Homo sapiens: one gene and its partners. The protein of the gene in region 2 interacts with the protein of the main gene of each other region in a biochemical or structural test. Each region holds a gene or a part of one and is shown on either strand. Other genes may lie near its edges. The genes, in order: RPA1, SEM1 and RAD52.

What was found.
Region 1: the proteins of SEM1 (region 2) and RPA1 are reported together in a solved structure, tested with the Homo sapiens proteins (one study listed by BioGRID).
Region 3: the proteins of SEM1 (region 2) and RAD52 form a complex in vitro, tested with the Homo sapiens proteins (one study listed by BioGRID).

The regions. Positions count from the first base shown.
Region 1 is NC_000017.11:1,878,431-1,882,081, reverse strand, and holds part of RPA1 (replication protein A 70 kDa DNA-binding subunit), read right to left. Parts: intron 3,090-3,651; coding exon 3,021-3,089; intron 2,868-3,020; coding exon 2,675-2,867; intron 2,523-2,674; coding exon 2,383-2,522; intron 1,540-2,382; coding exon 1,391-1,539; intron 1-1,390. UniProt on the Homo sapiens protein: As part of the heterotrimeric replication protein A complex (RPA/RP-A), binds and stabilizes single-stranded DNA intermediates that form during DNA replication or upon DNA stress.
Region 2 is NC_000007.14:96,703,213-96,706,863, forward strand, and holds part of SEM1 (26S proteasome complex subunit SEM1), read right to left. Parts: intron 1-3,651. UniProt on the Homo sapiens protein: Component of the 26S proteasome, a multiprotein complex involved in the ATP-dependent degradation of ubiquitinated proteins.
Region 3 is NC_000012.12:925,648-929,298, reverse strand, and holds part of RAD52 (DNA repair protein RAD52 homolog), read left to right. Parts: intron 1-2,035; coding exon 2,036-2,154; intron 2,155-2,352; coding exon of another isoform or gene 2,353-2,503; intron 2,504-3,651. UniProt on the Homo sapiens protein: Involved in double-stranded break repair. Plays a central role in genetic recombination and DNA repair by promoting the annealing of complementary single-stranded DNA and by stimulation of the RAD51 recombinase.

The DNA of each region.
Region 1 (3,651 bases), on a different chromosome or scaffold from region 2:
GAGACCATCTAACAGAATGGATGTTACCCTGAGCTGCAGACAGCTGCCTTCTCCTGTCAGGTAAGCGGCTAAATCCCTCACAGGGGCACAGCAAGGCCCATCCATCTGTTTCACCACTACTAGCTACACAAGTTCACGGTTTCAAAAGCTCCAAGGAGACATTTGCCACCAAAGATCACTCGTCAGGAGTCAAGGCGGCCCTTCTTACAATAAAAACTCTGCATTGTTATAGCCAAGATCTAAACATCTCTAATCCTTGTCCAGGTATCATGTATGCACTGAGCTTGTCTTTGATCAATGCCAAGTTATTTTATTCTGGGGACAGCCGTGCTTTTTATGTTGACTGGGATCATGATTATTGACAAGTAAAAGATGAAGACATTAATGTGGGAATGCAATTTTAATGTGGGAATGCGATTTTAATGTGGGAATGCAATTAACCTGGAGTCGAACTCCAGAGCCTAAAAGAAAATCAAGCAATAAGAAAAAAGCAAATCTGTGGCTAGTTCTGGTCAGACTATGAACGGGCCCTGCAGTTCGGCAGATACGTGTGGACCGTACTACTCATGAGGATGGCTCAGTGACATGAACATTCCAGAAGATGCTTCATGAAACTGGTCAAACACCAGTGCCATTGGTTTAAATGACTCAAAACAAAGGAGGAGTATGTAAAATGAGCTCATTCTTTAGCTGCTTAAATCCTAAGACACAGCTGGAAACTGACACACTTCCCCCCCATAGACTACAGCTATGGGAATTATTGAAGCTTGGGTGAAAGTGTTTTCCCTGACCACATCAATTCTTGCATCCTGTGTCTCAGTTTGAAGTACTCTTTTAAGACAGAGTTTGAATGTCCTAAAAAGCTAGATACAGTGAGGAGATTTTAACAGGCTCTCCTCATCCCTTGAGTGCTTTGGGAATAACAATCTAATCCTAACAAAAAGCCCATTGTTCTCACCACACTTGATCAGAGTCTAGTGAATACACACTAGAAGATGTGATCGGCACCAAAGACTTGACAGAGAAAGAAAGCATGTGTTCCCCCACGCCACAGAGGCCCAGAGCCTAAACCCTGGAAAGAAAGGCGCCTTCAGCACACCGCTGCTGAAGCCTGGCCGTCCCCTCCTTTGGCAGGATCGAGGTCAGCAGGCAGCACTTACATGCTAATTGCCTCCTCCGACTCTCTAGGTTTGTCCTGGGATTACAGGTTTGTCCGTTTAAGGGCTTTAAAGCCCTCCTCACAGAAGGCATAATGCCTTCAAGAAACACGGAAGCTGCACCACTCAGGGACGAAGGCTTCTGCTTGGCAGAAAGCTCCCATGCTGATTGTAACCAGCTTTTCTCAAAGCCCAGCCTCAAGTAACCCTTTGTTTAGCCCCACAAAACCTACCATCCACGAAGCTTATAGGCCTCTGGGATGTCAGGATTCGCAATGATAGTGCTTGAAGACAGCACGGAGAGGCTCCGTCCACCGAAATCAGAGACTCGGGCTCCTTTGATAGCCAACACGGGCTGTCTAGAACCATCAAATTTATCAGCCTGTAAAAGAAACACCAGACATATACAAGTGTCACTAGCAGGAAGAACACAGAAGATTTTTATAGAAAACAAGGCAAACATTCAATAGTAGAGTGAATGTAATCAGCGTACATGGAATCCATACAAGACAGACCTCACACATGAGAATCTACTCAGAGACACATCAAAACTATCACTGCTTTCCTAGAGTTAGGGGAAAGAGCATTTCCCCGCGTAAAGCTTGAATCACAGCAAATCTCACAGAAGTAAGATAAAGGATTTTAAATACTTACCAGACAGCACAATCCTTCCCATCTACATGGTGAAAGCCCCCAACTCATAGGACAAAACCGCCCCCACGAGGAGCTCCTCCTGTGTGTGCTAACAGCCCCATCCTATAGGACAAGACGCCCCCTCCGCCAACCCCAGGAGCTCCTCCTGTGTGTGCTGAAGGCCCCATCCTATAGGACAAGACCCCTCCCTCCCCCAACCCCAGGAGCTCCTCCTGTGTGTGCTGAAGGCCCCATCCTATAGGAACAGACGCCCCCTCCGCCAGCTCCAGGAGCTCCTCCTGTGTGTGCTGAAGGCCCCATCCTATAGGACAAGACCCCTCCCTCCCTCAACTCCAGGAGCTCCTCCTGTGTGTGCTGAAGGCCCCATCCTATAGGACAAGATGCCCCCTCCGCCAACTCCTGGAGCTCCTCCTGTGTGTGCTGAAGGCCCCATCCTATAGGATAAGACCACTCCCTCCCCCAACTCCAGGAGCTCCTCCTGTGTGTGCTGAAGGCCCCATCCTATAGGACAAGACCACGCCCCAACCCCAGGAGGTCCTGTGCGTGTTGAAGACCCCATCCCAGCACTTACATCTTCCCCCCACAGTGTAGCAGTCACCACCTTCCCGGATGTGTCCATCAAGTAGATATTCCTCTTGGCAACTTCTCTGTTGTTAGACCTCACTGTGATTTTAGTGGCGTCTTCATAGCTCTTGCAGATCCCGATGATGTCTAAAACACATGCACGTGTTAGCAGGAGGTGGTCAAGACTCCCATTCCGACGCCAGCAAATGATGAACGGCAAGCACTGAAGCCTGACACCACCCCGTACACTGCAAAGAAAGCTAGTCATCCCTGCTCTTCCTTCTCATACACGAGCTTACCTACAAGTGAGTCTTTCGACTTGTTCTCGAGGTCATCAATCCCCGTGAAATCAAACTGAACCGTAGGTAAATGATGGTCGTCCTCACAGGGCATGACGGAAGTCTCGTTATTGAAGGTCATCTCGTAGTCATTTTTAACAGCTGTGAACTGCTTGTTAGCAATCTTCAGGGTGCCTTTCGAGAAATAATACACCTGCGAAGGAGGCCAAGCCACAGAACCTGAGACTACCATCAAATCGGACAGAAACCCCTAGTCTGCCACCACACACCCCTCCCCTGGGCCAGCGTCTTTTCATCCGCACTCCACCCCCAGGCGGTGTCAGTTCTAAAGTCAGCACGGCCATACCTTGTTCACTTCAATAAGAGGAAAGAACTTGTCCACTTGCTCATTGAAAGCTGTAGCTCGGATTTCACCCTGCAGAAGCACGTGGGCAGGTTAGGGCTGCGGGATTGAACACAGGCCACCCCAGCACCCAAGTGACACTGGGATAGAACACAGGCCACCCTAGCACCAAAGTGACATCTTGAGAGCAGTGGCCCTTGCACAAACAGGGTCCAGAGAGGGCTACGGACATCCCAGGAACCCGCATTTTACAGTCACACACTGAAGTCACTGGCCCCGCTGAAGAATGAGAATTTCAGCTAGCCGATCCCATAATCATGCTGCATTAGCCTCAACTGAGAAACAGAACAGAACAAAACGGCAATGACGAGTTTAATTTATTCTGACAATAAAAACAAAAAAAGTTGAATACTGAGGGACACGCCCAGAGCCCACGAGGAAGGTGCTGCCACGGGGTGATTCACCGGCTCCCTCCACAGTGCCCTCTCAGTGACAAACCACTTCACATTCGGAGCCATTGCCAAAAATGTCAGAGTAAGTCATGTTTGCAAGTTGCTTGTGATCTGATTTTCACTTTTGCTTTTCTGTCAGCCAAAATTTACAAGTGGACAAGAAATTTTAGCCAACCACCATA
Region 2 (3,651 bases):
TGTTGGTACTCAGAAAGTTTGAGATTCCGGAGGATTTCAGATTTGGGATGCTCAACCTATAGTAATGCATCAGTGCGTTAATTTCCTGATTTTGATGGTTGTCTTGTGACTATGTCCTTGTAGGAAATACACATTAAAATACTCAGGAGTGATGGCCATCAGGTTGGCAACTTATTCACAAATGGTTTAGAGAAAAATGTTTGTACTGTACTTTCAACTATTCTGTAAGTTTGAGATTATTTCAAAATAAAAATTATATTATAAAAAATGAGTCTGCCAATTCAATTTGGCAATTCTTCTCTAGGAGTTTATCTTATAGATTAGCACACACACAAAAAGATGTAAACATATTCATTATCTGTAACAGAAAAAAAACAACAAAACCCAAGCAACAAAAACCCTAAAGCTATAAGGTTATTCACTGCAGCATATTCCATTTTTTTTTTTTCTTTTAAAGGCCAGGTGCAGTGGCTCACCTGTAATCCCAGCACCTGGGAAGACTGATGGGAAGACTGCTGAGGCCATTAGTTCAGTACCAGCCTGGGCAACATAACGAGACCAAATCTCCACAAAAAATTTGAAAGAACAAATTAGGTGAGATGGCACATGCCTGTACTCCCAGCTACTAGGGAGGCTGATAGGGAGGCTGAGACAGAGGATCACTCAATCCCAGGAGTTCAAGGCCGTAATAATCTGTGACAGCGCCACTGTACTCCAGCCTGGGTGACAGAGCACCAGAGCAAGACCTTGTCTCTTAAAAACACACACACACACACACACACACACACACACACACACATACATAAAAGAACCAAAGAAAAAACCCTAATATCTATCAAGAAGGGACTAGTTAAATAGACTATTTAAGATGAACACAATGAGGGCATGAGGTAGATTTTTATATTGATGCAAAAATGTACCTGAGATACATTAAATAATAAAAATCAAGTAGGAGGAAATAGTATATATCGTATGTCTTCTGTGTATGTATTTAAAGGATACATACAAACAAGTACAATTTATAAATACATTCTGGAAGGATACTAAAGAAAAAAACATTTAACGTTGGTTATCACTGGGACATAAATAACTTTTTTGGGGAATTGTAGAGGGAAACTGTGTTTTTACTTTTTAATTTATACTCTCATTAAGTTTAAATTTTTACCATAAGCGGTTACTTATACAATTATCCTATATAATATACTACAAAAATATTTTAAAGAGGAAGTTAAGTAACTAGCATGAGGTGACTAGCTGAAAGTTTATGAATGGTAGATTTGAACCTAGGCCTAATCCTAGATTCATCATGCTTATTCTATCCTGGGGTTCAAAAACTTTCTTCTTGCACACAATTATCAAAAATGGACATTCAACAGGTACTCTTCGAATCATTATACAGATTACACATTTTTTCTTAAAAATTTTTAGTAACATGAGTTCTCCATTTCTTGCTACCACCATGTAACTAATTCAAATGTTTAATGGTTATGTCCACTATATTACATTTAATAATGCAAAAACAGCAAAAGCCCTTTTTGGCACTAGGTAAACTGACTAGCATGGTGTGTGACATTATCAATACTGGTCACATCTATCTTCTACATTTAAGATTCTAAGGAATCCTCCTATTGAATGTTTAGTCCTGTTGGTATATGCTGTTCACATAAATATTTCTCAATAGCATTTTTCACAGGGCAGTTCTTCCTCGTGCAGGCACAAATATAAAATCCTTGACCTCTACCCACTAAATGCTGGCAGTTTTTCTACACTCCTACCTGTCAAGTCAGTGTGACATCCAAAAACACTCCCTTGGTTAAGAACCACTGTAAGATGTCATACTTTTTAAGGCACAGGTGATAATGCCTCATTTATTCCAGAATGCTGGCAGCATTAGGGGATCACCAGTCTGTTGTCTGCCTCAACAGACAGATTCCCATCATAACACTGTCTTATCCAGAAATTTCTCCAGGGGCCAGAGGGTGGGAAGGTGGGTAGTATTCTGCTCCTGATTTCTTCAGACTATATAGAAATTTCACCTAATACAGAAAAAGTATAGAATACTTAGTATAATATCACTCTTGTAAACGCTATTGCTGCTGCAGGCAAACTCAATTTCATTCTAAATATTCTAAAAAAGCTTCTCTCTCAAAAAAAAAAAAAAAACCCTTTCAATTCTGGCACAGGAAGAGAATAAAAGAATCTAAAGGAGCACTTGTTCTCTTCCCTCTTTTACTCGAATCCACATCTAATTGTCAGAGAAACTAATAAAAATATTTTTTAAAACTCTTTCAATAATTTGATATGGAAAAGTAGTCAACGTTTTAAATAAATTAGGCTGGGCGCGGTGGCTCATGCCTGTAATCCCAGCACTTTGGGAGGCCGAGGCGGGCGGATCACCAGGTCAGGAGATCGAGACCATCCTGGCTAACACCATGAAACCCCATCTCTACAAAAAAAATTAGCCGGGCGTGGTGACGGGCACCTGTAATCCCAGCTACTAGGGAGGCTGAGGCAGGAGAATGGTGTGAACCCAGGAGGTGGAGCTTGCAGTGAGCCGAGATTGCGCCACTGCACTCCAGCCTGGGTGACAGAGCGAGACTCTGTCTCAAAAAAAAAAAAAAAGTTTTAAATAAATTATAGACTACTTCAGTTTTTGACTCTATCACCACCAACCTGACCGTATGATTTGAAAAATGAAATCTTCTCTAGACTTTTAAGTTGCCCTCCGGTCCTAGAATTCTAACCATTTCAAAGCTTCCAAAATCATATCAAAATCAATCACACCCAGGACCTTGAATGTCTTCCTAATAAAGGCTGTTCTAAATCAGTTTAAGTAGTCAAGAAGTTGGAGGCTGTATATCACAAAGATCCTAAATATGATTTTTTACAGCTCCTGCTTAATGACCAGAAGATTACACACCCACCAATTAGAATAATTGTGAGGAAATGCCAATGTAGCACCAATTCACAGGCTATAGAATGGGGGAAAAAATAAAAGCAGCATTTGTACCTTCAGAGACTCCTTCCAGATGTTGCACTTTACATTGAAGGGCTATTGAGAAGAAACTATGCTGACATGGTGCCTCACACCTGTAATCCCAGCACTTTGGGAGGCAGAGGCGGGTGGATCACCTGAGGTCGGGAGTTCAAGACCAGCTTGACCAACATGGAGAAACCCTGTCTCTACCAAAAATACAAAATTAGCCGGGCATGGTGGCACATGCCTGTAATCCCAGCTACACGGGAGGCTGAGGCAGGAGAATCGCTTGAACCCAGGAGGTGGAGGTTGCAGTCAGCCGAGATCGCGCCACTGCACTCCAGCCTGGGCAACAAGAGTGAAACTCCATCTCAAACAAACAAAAAAAAAAAAAAAAAAAAAAAAAGAGAGAGAGAAGAAACAATAAAAATTCCCTTTCCTTAAAATGATTAAATGAACATCCTACCAAACATATTCTTATGCAAGATGGGATGTAGCAACGCCACTCCCAAAAGAAAGACCCACTCCCAAAAGAAAATCTATTAGTCGAACCACCAGTAACGACTTTCATGTGGCAACCTCTATACTCCAAGTTACCCGAGAGTGGATAAAATCCACTTTCTGGAGCACTGACACTCAACAAAGCGTTTGAAAGTAAGATCTGTTATAGACTG
Region 3 (3,651 bases), on a different chromosome or scaffold from region 2:
TGAAGAAATACAATGAACAAGCTTTTTTTTAATCATTAGAAATTTTACATTGTTCTTTCTTTATCTGAACTCATATTTCTATTCTATTTCCCCACTGGTTTTAATCCTAATACATATTTATGGTTGAAAGTTTGGCTAGGCGGGGTGGCTCATTCGTGTAACCCCAGCACTTTGGGAGGCCCAGGTGGAAGGACTGCTTGAGCCCAGGGATTTGAGACCAGCCTGGGCAACATAGCGAAAGCCCGTCTCTACTAAAAATACAAAAAATTAGCTGGGCATGGTGGTGTATGCTTGTAGTCCTAGCTACTCAAGAGGCTGAGGTGGGAGGATCACCTGAGCCCAGGAAGTCGAGGCTGTGGTGAGCTGTGATTGCGCCACTGAACTCCTGGGTGGAAAAAAAGAAAAGTTTTATCGGTAGCCTTACTGTGCTTCTCTGCCTTTGCCTGTGTATAAAAATAAAAATTTTTGGTAAATTTTCAGTGCACTTAAGGCTCTAAATATTAAAATATTTCTTTTGGATTTAGTTATATTATAGCTACTGTTAACACACAATTGACCAGACAATTGTGTTTATGGTGAAGAGAAAACATAAATACAGCAAAATTTTGATACTTAGAAAAATTAAAGATATGAAATCTTGCCACAAAAATAAAAAATTTAAAATATAAAATTTATGGAAAATGTATATCTTAATGAGATGGATGGTGCTGTTTTTTCTTTTCAGTTAGTTTATATATCCATATATCCATAACTGAATATTACTTACTTCTTTTTTTTTTTTGAGATGGAGTTTTGCTCTTGTTGCCCAGGCTGGAGGGCAATGGTTCAATCTCAGCTCACCGCAACCTCCACCTCCTGGGTTCAAGCGATTCTCCTGCCTCAGCCTCCCAAGTAGCTGGGATTACAGGCATGCGCCACCCCGCCCGCCTAATTTTTTGTGTGTGTTTTCAGTAGAGACGCGGTTTCTCCATGTTGGTCAGGCTGGTCTGGAACTCACAACCTCAGGTGATCCACCCGCCTTGGCCTCCAAAAGTGCTGGGATTACAGGCGTGAGCCACCGCACCCGGCCTACTTATTTCTTGAATGAACAATTCAGCATTAATTCTATTCTGACTTATTTTTCTAAATAGTACTAAAAAATCTTGTATCTATGAGTGAGTAGCTGAGAATGGAAAGAATTGTGTTATAGTGTCACTCATTTATTTGAGTGCTTTCTGAGTTATTTTTTAAAAATCACAGAGCGCTGTCATCAAACATTGTATTTAATTCTCAATCAGCGAATGATGTGCTCAGGTCCACCTTCTCTTTTGGTGAGAGGCAGGAGCTGGACGCCACCTGATTTACAAAGGGTTTGCTCTCCCGTCCTTACAGACCATTAGATCCAGTGTTCAAATCATCCCTTTGTTTCATATCCCAGAGGTTTTTTTTTTTCCAAGACGTAGTCTCACTCTATCACCCAGGCTGGAGTGCAGTGGTGCAATCTCGGCTCACTGCAACCTCTGCCTCCCAGGTTCAAGTGATTCTCCTGCCTCAGTCTCCTGAGTAGCTGGGATTACAGGTGCCCACCACCACACCCGGCTAATTTTTGTATTTTTAGTAGAGATAGGGTTTCACCATGTTGACCAGGCTGGTCTTGAACTCCTGACCTCAAGTGATCCACCTCCCTTGACCTCCCAAAGGGCTGGGATTACAGCGTGAGCCACCACGCCCGGCCCGGCCATCCCAGAGGTTTTTTTTACCTTAGGGTGATGCACACTGATAGGATTTGGGGTGAGTTTCTAATGTGCCCTTTGTGTGTTGGGAAGTTGGGAAGGGAGGATCGTCTTGACACCTTGACCGCAGGCACATGTCCAGGCAGCCCAGGTCTAGGAAGCAGCACTCGCGATGGATTCTCACCCAGCCTTCTGCCCGTGCCCCTGTAGCAAGGCCGCCAGGTGGGAGAGTCCGGCTTTGAACCCTGCTGCTTGAGGAACAGGGGAGTTGTGGCACGCCTGCCGCTCTCGTGTTTGAGTTCAAACTCCTTTTCTGCCCCCAGGATGGTTCATATCATGAAGATGTTGGTTATGGTGTTAGTGAGGGCCTCAAGTCCAAGGCTTTATCTTTGGAGAAGGCAAGGAAGGAGGCGGTGACAGACGGGCTGAAGCGAGCCCTCAGGTGAGCGCGGGGCTGGGAGTCTAACCTGCGTCATTTCAGCTCTTGCTTCAGAGCAGATTTCGATTTTTTTTGGAAGAGGTAACACATCCACATGGTTCAAAAATCCAAGCAGCGTGGAAGGTAATTCTCACCCCTGCCCTGGTTCCTGTCTGCCGTTTTCCCACTTTCGTTAGTATTTTTTCAATGTTTCTGTTTCAGGCTTCCCTTGCTGGGAGTAAGTGGTAGAATCCTGTACTCTCTCTTCTCCGTGCACTCAGTCATGTGTGCCGGAGGCCTTCCCACTCCTACTGCGAGTGCACAGACAGCACCCTCCTCTCCGTGCTCCTCAGCAGTCCTCCGCTACGCACAGGTAGCATAGTTAACGTAGTTACACAGTCACGCAGATGTCCGTGTTAGTCCATTTATGTTGCTATACAGGAATACCAGAGGCTGGGTAATTTATAAATAAAGGAGGTTTGATTGGCTTATGATTCTGTGGACTGTACTGGAAGCCTGGTGCCAGCATCCACTTCTGCTGAGGCCTCAGGAAGCTTCTAATCATGGCAGAAGGTGAAGAGGGAACGTGGAGAGAGAGGGAGCAAGAGAGAGAAGGAAGGAGTCCCAGGCTTATTTATTTATTTTATTGTTGTTTTTCATTTTTTGAGACAGGGTCTTGCTCTGTTGCACAGGCTGGGGTGCAGTGGTGCCGTCATCGCTCAGTGCAGCCTTGAACTCCTGGGCTGAAGTGATCTTCCCGCCTCAGCCTCCCGAGTAGCTGGGATCACAGGCACATAACACCACCCCCAGTTAATTAAAAAAAAATTTTTTTTTTTTTGGAGAGACAGGGTCTCCCTTTGTTGCCTAGGCTGGTCTCAAACTCCTGGGCTCAAGTCATCCTCCTGCCTTGTGCCTCCCAAAGTGCCGGGATCACAGGCATGAGCCATCATGCCCAGCCCCCACACTCAAAACCACCAGATCTCTCATGAGCTGAGTGAGAACTCACTCAACACCAAGGGGATGGCACTAAGCTGTTTATGAGGAATCCAGCCCCAGGATCCAGTACCTCCCACCAGGCCGCACCCCCCGGCATTGGAGGTCACGTTTCAACATGAAATTTGGAGGGGATAAACATCCAAACCATATCCGTGTCTTTGAGAATTGAAGTGAATTGAACCAGAAAAACCTATGAGTTCTGTGGGGGAGTCCGTAGATCCCAAGTTAAGAACTCTGGTCATGGGAGGTTGTGCCCTTGAGCCCCCGGTCCCCAAGTGTGTGTTGCCTACTCCTGCTGGGAAATTGGAGCAGCCTTTGGGGGGAAAAAAAAGAAAAACTCTCTGCAGTTTGTTCTCCATGTCAGGAGGTGGCTGGTGGGTTTTGTGAATGGCGCCGTAATCTTTTCATACTCATCTTCTCTGTGAGGGCAGGGACTTGTGTCTTGTCCTCACTGCAGTATTCTCAGAAACTAACACAGTGCAGGAACATGCTAGATGCTTACCAGACATCAATGGGGAATGCATG